Regions from separate parts of the Homo sapiens genome. Here regions 2 and 3 are each linked to region 1. Evidence: fine-mapped expression QTL. A gene starts in region 1. Each other region holds a variant in brackets. All regions are shown on one strand. Distances are from middle to middle.

Region 1 (4,243 bases):
CTACATTGTGCAAATTACATAATGGTATGTGAAATCATATCTCATCGCAAACAATTTTTCAGGAGTTCTCGGTGTTCTCTCAAACACTTTCGGCAACAATGCTCACTTATCTGCAGGCAGGCTAGTTACTGCTAAACACTGGGCCCCAGTCTGGAGCTCTTAGTTTTCCCAAAAGCATCTCAAAACTCACCCTGAACAAAGACAGAGAGGCGAGAACATGCTATGTCTTTGTCACCTCTTAATCTTGATGTGTCTACACTTTTTTTTGAGTGTGGGAGCAATATAGAGTGCACATTCTTTTAGCGATAACAAGAAAACCCGCTAGAACTTCTTTCAGCGTAAAAAAAATGGCTCAAAGCTTATAAAATACTATTGTTATTAGGAAATTCAAAAACACTTTTCTCACTTTCTAATTAGCGCCTTTACAGGCTAAAAACAACTCATCTGTGCTGCTCTTGGGGAAAGGGATACAGAAAATATTTGACCAAATAAATTAATCAAATTTATTTATTTGGTCAAGTGGCCAGATACTTAAAAATAGACTACTAGTGGGGAAAATATTCTAGGGGAGCAACCTTCTTGCAGTGGATCAGAAATCTCGTTAAGAAATACTGGGATCCCACAGTGTTCGAGGGAGCCCGGTCCTGGGGAGGGATCTCTCTCTTCAACTCACTTAGAAGGAATGGGTTCTAGGTAACAACAAAATCCTCTCCATGTCCCCTCCCCCGCCACCACGCGGAGCCTCTGCTATTGTCACCATATATCTCGCACCCTGCGCACCTCCTGGACACAAGGCCGGGCCGGGGGCTGCTGGTACTGATTCTCTGCTAAACATGCCAAGGGACTGCCTGGGCTTTTCTCTACATCACTTTTCTCGCCTGTAAAATGTGCAAGAAAAAAACTTCCAACAAAGCAAAACTTCAGCGGCAGCGGTTCGCCACTTTATATTTTAAAGATCGAAACGTTTATTGGTGGAGCAACGTGAGAGCTTTTCTTTTTGGGGGTGGTCCTGGGAGAAACACAATGACAAGTGCAACGCAGGACTGCAGGCTCCCCCAGGGGGCTTCCGCTCCATCCTCCTCCATATCCAACACCCCGTGGCAGGCGGGCTGCACCCTCCAAGATCGAGTCCAAAGGGGCATCGGCTGGGCCCGCGAAGGGGGTGGCACGCCCCACCTAAACGTGACTGGAAAAAACTCCAGATCTCAGCCCAAATGCCAGTTTGGCTTTCGGAGGAAACTGAGGCAGGGGTGAGGAGAAGGCGCAACAGTGACCCCCGCAGTCTCCCCTCGGCGTCCCTCCGCCCGCGCACCCCATTCCCGTGCATCTCTCACCTGGCCTGCGGGCCCGGGTGCGGGCAGACAACAGCGGGCCGCACAGACTGAAGCAGGCGGCCACCAGCAGCAGCCGCCGCGGCCCCATTGTCCCGGGCTCTGCGCGGCGCTGCTCCGGGAGGCTGCCCCGCCTCGGGCTGCTCCGCTTCACCCTCTCTCCTGACTTCTGCGGGTCGGGGAGCCGGTCTTCGCGGCAGGCAGAGCGCAGGGTGCCCACGGGTAAGATCAGGGTCCAAGCGACCCTCGGCGAGCGCTGTGTCTGGGGCGGTTAGCGGGGCGGGGCGGGACTGGGGCGCGCGGTCGCGCGGGCGCGAGCGAGGAAGGGCGCCCTCCGGCGTGCAGTGAGAGTCTCTGCGCTGGAGCCGCTCGGCGCCCCCTCCCCGCGGTCCCTCAGCCGCCGCTCGCAAGCCCCTCTGGCTCTGTGCGCCCCGCCCCGCCCCGCCCTGCCCTACTGGGGGGCCCTGGCCGCCGGCCACTGCCGGGCCTAGAAGTCCAAATGAGAAGTTTTTTCCTCTGGGCACCGTTGATTCGCGAAGCTGTCAGTGACTCACACTGGCGGGGTCCTTGGAATGGGGCCGCACGGCTCGCAGGCTGCTTCCCGCGGCCGTCTCGACCCTCCTGGGATGTGGAGACGTCGACAGTGGACGCCCCGGCCAGGATGCGTCCACGCCCTGCAGCCCCGCAGCCCTGGCGTGGCCTCCCGTCCTCCCTCCCTCCGTGTGGGACACCGGCAAAGTTCAGTTTTCGCTAAAAGTCTAAAAGGGACTTCTGCTTTTGTAACGTGGGGATCACGGATTTAAAAGTTTATGATGTAGTGACAGGGTTGCCCCTAAATGAGAAAGGGCCCTTGAGTCTGGACAGAATTCTTGAACTTTTATACGTCTCTCTTTATTTCGCGAAGTTAGGCGTTTCATACGCCGGGCACTCGTTTCCCCCACACGCAGACTGCGAGTGGAATAGGAAGAGCGGCTTCTCCCGCTTCCCCCCCGCGCGGCCTCGCGGAGCTCTTCCCTTTCCCGCGCCGCCCGCCGGGGTCACCTGCGCATCTGGGAGGAGGGCGCGCGTCTGCCGGTGAGGCCGGCGTTCTAGGGCCGCGGGCGCCCAGGAGAGAAATGGCCTGGTAACTTTCCAAGTGTCCTTCACACGTTCTTGAACGATATTACAGTTTGTTTTGTTTTTGAGGCAGGGTCTTGCCCTGTCGCCCAGGCTGGAGTGCAGTGGCGCCAACACGGCTCACTGCAGCCTCGATCTCCCTGGCTCAGGCCACCCTTTCGCCCCAGCCTCCGGATTACCTGGGACCACAGAAAGGCGCGCGCCACCATGTCCGGCTAATTTCACTGCTGGCCTCAAGCGATCCTCCTGCCTCAGCCTCCTAAAGTGCGGGGATTACAGGCGTGAATCACCGCGCCAGGCCTGATATTAAAGGAGTTTGGCTAAATTCAAGGCACAGGGCGGGGACACTCGCTTGGCAGTCTGCTAAGGGCCCCCAGGGGCGTCGCGGCTGGGGGTGGGCAGGAGGAGCCTGCAGCTTAAGTTGCTTTGCCACTGGCTCTGGTGCGTGCGCCTTTCAGACTCCAACAGGAAATGGGTCCCCAAATAGCTGTTTCTAGGAAAGCTCAGCCGCAGCCCCTTCTCCTCTTAACCCAGCGCACTGATGTGCGGGCATATTCGGAGTTCTGTGGTTGATAAGCTGCAGCTGAGAGCCGGTGGTCAGTTTTCTAAGCCTTTTTTAAAAGTGAATTTCGCACGAAGAGTATCATTCCCCCACTAGAGCCCGGACACTTACATCCGTGGAGAAAGTACGATCAGAGGCGATTTCGTTCTTCCCTGTATTCTCCCATCATCCTCAAAGGACAGTACCTTGTTGTACACAGAAGTTGATCACTAAATTGCGGAAGTACCCAGTTAAATAAAGCTTTTTAAAATCTATCCCCGTTCAGTTATCCTCTGGAAACATACCCAAGAGTAAATGTGAACAGTTAAAATTACATAGTTCTTCATTCACTATTAAACTATTTTTCATTATTCCTAAGACGTCATTGATTTTACAATTTATCATTTTAACCCATTACCACAAGCCAGAAAAAAATGTGACATACCAATGATTGTAAGAAACACTCCAATTTCAGGGTTATGAAGAAAAGGCATTTTAGAATCAATGAAACACAGTGGAAAATATAAACACATATGACAAAATTTCTGATAGTTGAAGGATATGAAATGAAAAATAAATTACCTTCTGCCTCCCCTCCCCTAGTTGCCATCTGACCACTAAGTTTCCCCTCCTTCCTTCCTTCCTTCCTTCCTTCCTTCCTTCCTTCCTTCCTCCCTCCCTCTCTTCCTTCCTTCCTTCCTCTCTTCCTTCCTTCCTCTCTCTCTCTCTCTGTCTTTCTTATTTTCTTTCTTTCTTTTTTTTCCTGAGGCGGAGTTTCACTCTTGTTGCCCAGGCTGGAGTGCAATGGCGCGGACTCGGCTCACAGCAACCTCCGTCTCCTGGGTTCAAGCGATTCTCCTGCCTCAGCCTCCCGAGTACTTGGGATTACAGGCGCCTACCACCGCGCCTGGCTAATTTTTTGTATTTTTAGTAGAGACTGGGTTTCACCATATTGGCCAGGTTGGCCTCAAACTCCTGAACTCAGGTGATCCACCCGCCTTAGCCTCCCAAAGTGCTGGGATTACAGGCATGAGCCACCGCATCCAGCTACCTGACCACTAAGTTTCTGTTCACCATTCAAAAAATCATATCCACATACAAATTGCATATATGTATATCCTTAAAATAAGAATGGAATAATACCACCACATTTTAAAATTTTATCTGTGTCATTGGTGGAAAATGTTATTTTTAACCATTTTACAAAACGATAAAGCTTAAAAGGATGCTTTGGGGTCTTAGTTGTTAGAACAAA
Region 2 (4,243 bases), 39 kb before region 1:
TTTTTAGTGTCGAGTTGCCGAGTTGCCGCAGATGGGAAATTGGCTGTACTCAACAAATCAGACTGATTGCAGGTCCAGCCTTGGTTTGCAACTTTGTAACTTCACTCCAGCCTCTGAATGGTTGCTGTCCACAATCAGACTGATTTTGGGCGAAGTCTTCGTTTGCATAGAAGTATAACTTTGTAACTTCACCCTAGCCTCTGACTAGCTGCTTTTTGCAACCAATCAGATGTTTGCACAGGAGTGTGACCTTTGTAACCATTTCAGCCTCTGTTTGGCTGCCTTCTGCAACCAATCAGACTGATTGTGGGCTACCACTTTATTTACATGAGGTGAGCATCAGGTGGCCAATGGGAAACTTCTAGGGGTATTGGACCCAAGAAGATTCTGTGTCCGGGCCCTTGAGCTGCTGCTCCGCGCACTCCCACACTGTGGAGTGTGCTTTCATTTTCAATAAATTCCTGCTTTTGTTCTTTCGTTGCTTCACTCTTTGCTTTGCTAGGCATTTTGTCCAATTCTTTGTTCAAGATGCCAAGATCCTGGACAACTTGCAGTCACAACTGTCAACCGTCTACTGATGACACAAGGAATGAGGCCACAGAGGCCTACCTGGGGCACAGAGGACTGAGGTGGACGGAGGCTGGAAGGGTGCCCACCCACTGCAGCAGCTGCAGCCCAGCCTCTCTTGAGGGAACTGAATTCAGTAACAGGAGCCACCAGGCTCTGAGTGCTGTCTAGCAACACCCAAGGACCAGGATCCAAACAGCCAAGAGCAGAAAAACTCCACCTGGAAAGGTTCACTAAGTCCTTCTAGTAATGGGACCTTGAGGTTTTTAGGCCATTTTGCAGAAACTTAGGTGACATCTGAATGCTGTAGACCTGGCCGTTGTGAGATTGTTCAACTCTGCAGTCTGAGAGAATTCAAAAGAAAATACCTGGTTATCCCTAAATAAACTCTGAGCTGAACTGTTGGAAGACAGGCTGGAAGGGAAGCAAGGAGCAGGGTAGAAAGCTAGCCCAGAAAAGCATTTTGGGGTGTGTGTGTGTGTGTGTATATAGTGACACCTCATTTTTCAGTAACATTGGAAAAAAAGTCTTGTTTCAAATGCAGGAATATTCACATAACTGAAGCTTACCCTTCTGCGCTGGTGTAGATTAAGATTGTCCAACCCACAGCCCAGGGCAGCTTTGAATGGGGCCCAACACAAATTTGTAAACTTTCTTAAAACATTATGAGATTTTTTTTTTTGCAATTTTGTTTTAAGCTCATCAGCTATTGTTAGTGTCAGTGCATTTTATGTGCGGCCCAAGACTGTCCTTCTTCTTCCAGTGTGGCCCAGGGAAGCCAAAGGATTGGATACCCTTCATGTAGATTCTTCCAGAGGCGGATCTTGAGACAGGCTCTACCTCTGGAAGAACACAACTAGTTTACCTGGGACGTGCAGGAAGCACCTCTAGGGAAGTGGGGAAATGATAAAGATGGGATAGCAGCCACTAAAGGCTATGCTACCAACCCCGTTAGCACAGTGGGTGACTGGAGCCTCACCTAGTTGGCCACTCTGGGAGACTGTGTAAGATCTCACTCAAGGGGCATGGGAGCTAATGGATTTGCACACCAATGCCTGAGGGTTATTAGTGCTGCTCCCAGGGGAGCAGGGTGTGTTCATTCCCTGGCACTCTTGGGCTGCTGATGAGTGCAACTGTGTCCGGGAAATAAGCCTTCTGGTTTCAGAAAAACCTTCAGGTATGGATTTGGGCAGTTGGAAACCAGCCAGAGGATAATAAATCAGTGAGGTTCAAGGAATGTGAGCAGAGCACTGACAGTGTCTGTTGCATTTATTAATCCCCAGACTCACTTTAGACTCCTGAAATTTTCCAACACAGTACATGGAGCATAATTTAGTCCTTTCTTCACGGCTAAGCAGCA[C/T]CATAATGAGCATCAGTCATTTTAACTTCCTTTGTTGCTCCTGCTAGCAAGGTGATAGAATGGTTTGTTTTAAACCACAGGCCCTTGAAACTTCTGAGTTTGTTTTATATTTCCAGTGAATACTATTGAAAGAATGAATAAATAATTTTCCATGTCAATACATGCATTTTGTTTTTCTTGAAATGAAAATTTAAATCATAGAGGTAAACATTTGAGTACATTCTCTCATAAAAGGTTTACCCAATACATTAAAGCAAACATTCCCTTTGACCCTGCCCATGAATCTCACTTTCCTAGTGGATAACAAAGCATAACAGTGATTTGGGTATATTCTTCCCAACCATGTTAAAGGTATCTGTACATATATATGTATACCTTTAGAAATATGTAGCTTTGTTTTTGTGTTGTATATAGATACATGTATATATCTATATTAAACCACTGTTTATAACCAAAACATTTTCATCAACCCAACATAAACTCTATATGCATTAAATTGTCTCATTCTTTTTCATTCTCATCTTATAGATGTGCCATAATTTACTGATGGACATTGAGGTTTCCAGTTTTTTCCTAGTGCAGACATTGCTCAAGGAAATATTTTGCGTTCTTGCCATTTTGTGCATATGAAGATGTTTCTCTGTATATTCCCTGGAATTGAGGACAATTTAAACTCTTTCTTTGAAATTGTTATGCCACTTATTTCCTTATTTTTTCTGGATGTTTTTCTGGAATAGATGTTGACAGTGGAATTGGTGGGTGGTAGAGAATGCAAGTCAAAATTTTTGATAGAATAAAATTTCTTTCTGAAAAGGCTATATCCATTTATTCTCTTCAACTGAGAATGACAGCTTCCATTTCTCCATATCTTCACCCATATTGGATGTTATAAATCTTTTATTTTTGCCAATCAGGGTGAAAAAGAACTCATTTTAGCTGTTGAGATTGAACATATTTTCATATGATTATTAGTCATTTGTATTCAGTGAAATTCCTGTTCATACCTGATCTTATAAAAATATTCATTTTCCATATTATTAGGTTTGGTCTTTCTTATTATTATTTATAGGCACTGTTATGTTATTATGGCTATTAATATTTTGTCTGTTATATATGCCAGAAATAGTTTCTTCCATTCTATAGTTTGTCTTTTGAAAGTTGTTTATGGTTCTTTTTTGCCAGCTGGATGTTTTGAAAGCTTATTTAGTGAAATTTATCCATTTTATGGCTTCTTTGCTTAAGGAAGTCTATGCTATCCCAAAGTTATAACCACATTCACTTATGTTTCCTTTTAATTTGTCTGGAGTCTTGTTTTTCATGTTTTCCTCTTTTAATTAACCTGGAATTTATGTGGCAGCATAAAGTAAGGATCTAATTTTTTCTCCTCCCAAAATGCATAGCCAATTCTTTAATGCTTTTATTTATTTATTTATTGAGACAGAGTTTTGCTTTTGTTGCCCAGGCTTGAGTGCAGTGGCACGATCTTGGCTCACTGCAACCTCTGCCTCCTGGGTTCAAGTGGTTCTTCTGCCTTAGCCTCCCGAGTAACTGGGATTACAGGCGCCTGCCACCGCGCCCGCCTAATTTTTTGTATTTTTACTAGAGATGGAGTTTCACCATGATGGCCAAGCTGGTCTCGAACTCCTGACCTCAAGTGATCCACCCGCCTGGGCCTCCCAAAGGGCTGAGATTACAAGAGTGAGCCACCCCACCCAGCCAATGCTATTTATTTGTATCCTTTCACAATTAATATGGAATGCCTTCTTTATCAAAAAGTACACTCATGAAAGTGGATCTACTTTTCAACCTCATTCTATTTGATCGATGTATTTGTATTTTCTTGTACATTTCTGAGTGCTCGTCTCTGCTTTTCATTGTTCTTCTGTCTCTCTCTCTTTTATATGTGGATGTGGGTAGTGCCTCTGCCTCCAGCAGCATGGTTCCTTCTTAACAACTAACTCGAGTCTGCTGGGAGCTAGAAAGCAGTGGATAATCGGGCTTGTACGTATTGTGGCCAAGAAGAAAAAAGATGGCAACACAGCCTACAAATGTCCTATAAGCATTCTGGAAACACAAGGTTTATCTTCCTCCTCAGAAGCCTTTTTTTTTTTTCTGAGACAGGGTCTCACTTTGTCGCATAGGCTGGAGTGCAGTTCAGCCTTGGCTCACTGCAACCTCTACCGCCCAGGCTCAAGCAATCCTTCTGCCTCAGCCTCCTGAGTTGCTGGGATGATAGGTGTGCACCACCACAACCAGCTAATTTTTTTGTATTTTTAGTAGCGATCGGTTTTTGCCATGTTGGCCAGACTGATCTCG
Region 3 (4,243 bases), 28 kb after region 1:
TAGCTCCAGACCTCAAATATCACCTTAGCCATTTAGTGCTCCTGCTAGTTTGGACCAAAAAACAAGGAAATCTTTCAGCTGGGATCATGGAACCTAAACTTAATCATGTGACAGGAAATTCTTAAGAGATGACAATTTAAGCACTCAAGCAGCTAAGTATGATTAAAAACCACAAATATTGCCTTCTACTTAAACACACATACTTTTGTGGGAAACTAAGCTTAATTAAGGCCATAAGGATCACATATTTTAAGTTGAATCATAAGTTATAATGAAAGGTTGACAACTGCATAGTTTTATATAATTTATGTGGTATTAATTATAATTTCATGTGATCATCATAGCCCTTCCTTTCCCCTCTCCTCTATATTATGGAGGAGAAAACTGATGGCGAGGCAACTTGCTGAGTTCCATGGTTAATAAGTGATAGATTGAGGCTATAACCCTATGTCATCCCTAAGACCCCTCGACTAGGTTTTTAGGATTCCTCGACCAGGTTTTTTTTTTTTTTTTTTTTTTTTTTAAATATCCCTGTGCTTGGTAGTATTAGAAAAATAGCAATAGCCCAAACTGAGGTTCTCTATTCTATAAACATACACAAGGGAAAAAGAAATAAATGTTTCTTCCTACTCCGATATGTGCCCTTTGTCCCTCCTCTTTGGCCTGGAAAGATGCTCCAGCCTCCGTTACTCAGTAACTGCTCAGCTAATAATTCTCATTATTTATTCTAAGATTCCTAAGAATGCAAAGAACAATGACCTTGCCCTCGACAAGTTGTAAAACTTTATGATCAAGAGTGTGGGCCCTGGAGGATTTCAAATCATGTGGGTTTGAATCTCTGCTCCACTTAGTAACTGTGTTACCCAGGAAAAGGTTTATACCTGTTCTGTGCCTAGTTTCCTCATCTGTAAAATACTGATAATAACCTCCACTCTCTTGGGGTTGCTGAGAATATTACATACATATTTTATACATGTTTATTTTAATATATATATATGCACATGTTATTCTCTTTCTCTCTTTACAGATTGTGGGTCCCTTTTTCAAAATGCTTGGGCCCAAAAGTGTTTCAGATTTTTTATCTTTTCAGATTTTGGAACATTTGCATTATATACTTACTGCTTCAGCATCCTAAATCCGAAAATTCAAAACGCTCCAAAGAGCATTTCCTTTGACCACTGTCAGCTCTCAAAAGGTTTGGAATTCTGGAACACTTTGCATTTGCACAGTATATAAAAACTGTCCCTGGCCATGGTAAGCACTACATAGGTGTTTGCTATTATCATCATCTTCATCTTCATCTGATGAGTAAGAATTATGAGACTAGCATGGAATTAAATTTACAAACATAATGATTAACAATGCCTCAAATTCTGCTACTGTGGGGGCCTCCATGAAGATGAGTTACTCATGACTGGAAAACTAGTGACATTGTAATTAAACATAAGGGCATTTCTGAAAGTTAAGAACACAATCTGTTTCACAAAAAAGCAGAATAGTTTTTTGATAGAGAAAAGCTAGGTATTTTCACATCCCAATTGCTCTGCATTTCATGTCTGTCCACTTCATAACTTATAAAAGTCATTGTCCGATTTTAGTTAAATTTGGTTCTCTAATGAATCTCAAGAACTATATCTTATGCTTGAGTTACAAATTCGGTTTATTAGCTTGGAAAAAAGTCATCCTGATGAGAGTGTTCAAATCAAAAAAGTCATCCTCATGAGAGTTCAAATCAATATTTTAAAGGAGTGGTCCCCAACCCTTTTGGCACCAGGGACAGGTTTTGTGGAAGACAATTTTTCCATGGACAGGGTGGGGGATGGTTTCGGGAAGATGATTCAAGTGCGTTACATTTATTGTGCACTTT[G/A]TTTCTATTATTATTGCATTGTAATATATAATGAAATAATTATACAACTCACCATAATACAGAATGAGTGGATGCCCTGAGCTTGTTTTCCTACAACTAGACAGTCCCATCTGTGGGTGATGGGAGACAGTGATCATCAGGCATTAGATTCTCATAAGGAGTGTGCAACCTAGATCCCTTGCATGTGGAGCTCACAATAGGGTTCATACTCCTATGAGAATCTACTGCTGCCACTGATCTGACAGGAGGTGGAGCTCAGGTGTTAATGCCAGCAATGGGGAGCAGCTGTAAATACAGGATGAAGCTTCACTTGCTCCCCTCCTGCTGTGTCGCCTGGTTCCTAACAGGCCATGGACTGATACTGGTACTTTTAGACTTTAGTTTCCTTGCCTGCAAGAAAAAGACTCAGTTTTCAGGTTCCCTGTCAATGCTGCACTTTGTAATTATCTGTTAGTATCAAGATTTTTTCAAATATGTACTTTAAAGGAAGTATATTTAGAAGCAGGGCTTGGCTAAAATCATAGAACTAATTCTATTGAACCTTTTGGGCAATATCCAAATTTCACTTTCAGGGATGGCTAACCAGTCAGTGTTGATTTCAAATTGTTACCTACATTGATCACTGGGCTGCTTAGTAAAGTGGTCGGCCAACAGTAAGATCTCACAGTATGCCAAGAGGAAGGCCTTTGAGCATAAAAGACTTAGGGCCTCTATTAAAACACTGGCCTCAAGCCTTTTTTACATAAATGGAAAAGTTGATCCTAAAATTCACATATAACTGCAAGAGACCTATTCAACTGCAAGACTAAAACAATCTTGAAAAAGAAGAAAGAAGTTGGAGGACTTCCGTATTTCAAAACTCATTACAAAGCTACAGTGATCAATATGGTGTGGCACTAGTACAAGGATAGACATATAAGTGAATGGAGTAGAATTGAAAATCCAGAAATAAAGCCATACATGTATTGTCAATTAGTTTTTGACAAGGGTGCCTAGACCATTCTATGAAGAAAGAATAGTCTGTTTAACTAATAGTGCTAGAACAACTGGACATCCACATGCAAAAGAATGAAGGTGGGGCCAGGAGTGGTGGCTCACGCCTGTAATCCCAGCACTTTGGGAGGCTGAGGTGGGCGGATCATGAGGTCAGGAGATGGAGACCATCCTGGCTGACATGATGAAACTCCGTCTCTACTAAAAACACAAAAAATTAGCTGGGCATGGTGGCAGACACCTGTAGTCCCAGCTACTTGGGAGGCTGAGGCAGGAGAATGGCATGAACCCAGGAGGCAGAGCTTGCAGTGACCCGAGATCATGCCACTGCACTCCAGCCTGGGCGACAGAGCGAGACGCTGTCTCAAACAAAAAACAACAACAATAACAACAAGAAAGAATGAAGGTGGACACCTGTCTCACACCACACACAAAAATGAACTCAAAAAGGGTTAATAGACCTAACTGTAAAAGCTAAAACTATAGAACCTTTAGAACAAAACATTGGGGTAAATCTCACAAGTAACAACAACAACAACAACAACAACAACAAAAAAAACAGATAAACTGGACTTCATCAAAATAAAAAAAAAAAAACATTTGTGCGGAAAAGGACATTATCAAGAGAGTAAAAAGCCCACACAAGGGGCAAAAATATTTGCAAATCATATATCTGATAATGGTCCAGTGTCCAGAATATATAAACAACTCTTACAACTGAGGAACAAAACCACAAACAACCTAATTTTAAAATGGACAAAGGAGTTAAATAGACATTTCTCCAAAAAGAATACATAAATACACAAGTGGATGACAAACATATGGAAGGATCCTCAACATTACTGGTCATTGGAAAAGTACAAACCAAAACCACAGTGAGATACGACTTCATATCTTCAGGCAAAAGTTCAAAGACATAGAGTGCAGACTAGTAGTTGCTAGGGGCTGGGCAGCAGCGGGGAATGGGGAATGACTACTTAATGGGTACAGGGTTCACATCTGATAAAAATGTTCTGGAACTAGACAACAGTGATGGTTGCACACTGCGAATGTACTAAATGCATGTACACTTTAAAATGGCTGAAATGGTAAGTTTTATGTGTATTTTACCACAATAAAAAATAAACCCACTGCTGGCTCTACATAGTGTGGTGATTAAAGAAGTGGATAGTGTTTGTTTCCAACACACTGGGGGGGACGGGGGAGAGCCACACAAGGGCAGAGGCTGGGTAATGGGTAAGGCAAACAGGACAATGTCCCAGGTTTCCCAGGCTAAGACACATTGCTTCCAGACAGGCCTGACTTTTATGGTTTTATCTTTAAATGTGATTTCCTAGAATTTGCAGAATCATGCAGACTCATGTTCAGGAATAAGTATAAATA

Which allele goes with the higher level. Alleles are on the strand shown, and positions count from the first base shown. SD is a standard deviation of normalised expression in the study named. Not every link is listed here.
With allele A in place of G in region 3, the expression in aorta of the gene that starts at base 1,604 in region 1 is lower (small effect, 0.25 SD a copy in GTEx).

What was found. PIP is the estimated chance that this variant, and not a neighbour inherited with it, causes the effect.
Region 2: its variant is the best candidate, but not a certain one, in a credible set for the expression of F2R in whole blood (TOPMed, PIP 0.59).
Region 3: its variant is the best candidate, but not a certain one, in a credible set for the expression of F2R in aorta (GTEx, PIP 0.86).

The regions. Positions count from the first base shown.
Region 1 is chr5:76,713,487-76,717,729 of GRCh38, reverse strand. F2R (coagulation factor II thrombin receptor) reads right to left here and starts at 1,604. Exons shown (of 2, transcript NM_001992.5): 1 at 1,335-1,604. The coding sequence starts at 1,422. RefSeq lists a silencer at 1,549-1,798.
Region 2 is chr5:76,752,351-76,756,593 of GRCh38, reverse strand. No RefSeq gene overlaps it. Among named protein-coding and RNA genes, the nearest start is that of F2R, 38 kb to the right of the region's middle. The variant C/T (reference allele first, on the strand shown) is at 1,928.
Region 3 is chr5:76,685,511-76,689,753 of GRCh38, reverse strand. All of the region lies in intron 30 of IQGAP2 (IQ motif containing GTPase activating protein 2), which reads right to left. Among named protein-coding and RNA genes, the nearest start is that of NCRUPAR, 25 kb to the left of the region's middle. The variant G/A (reference allele first, on the strand shown) is at 1,868.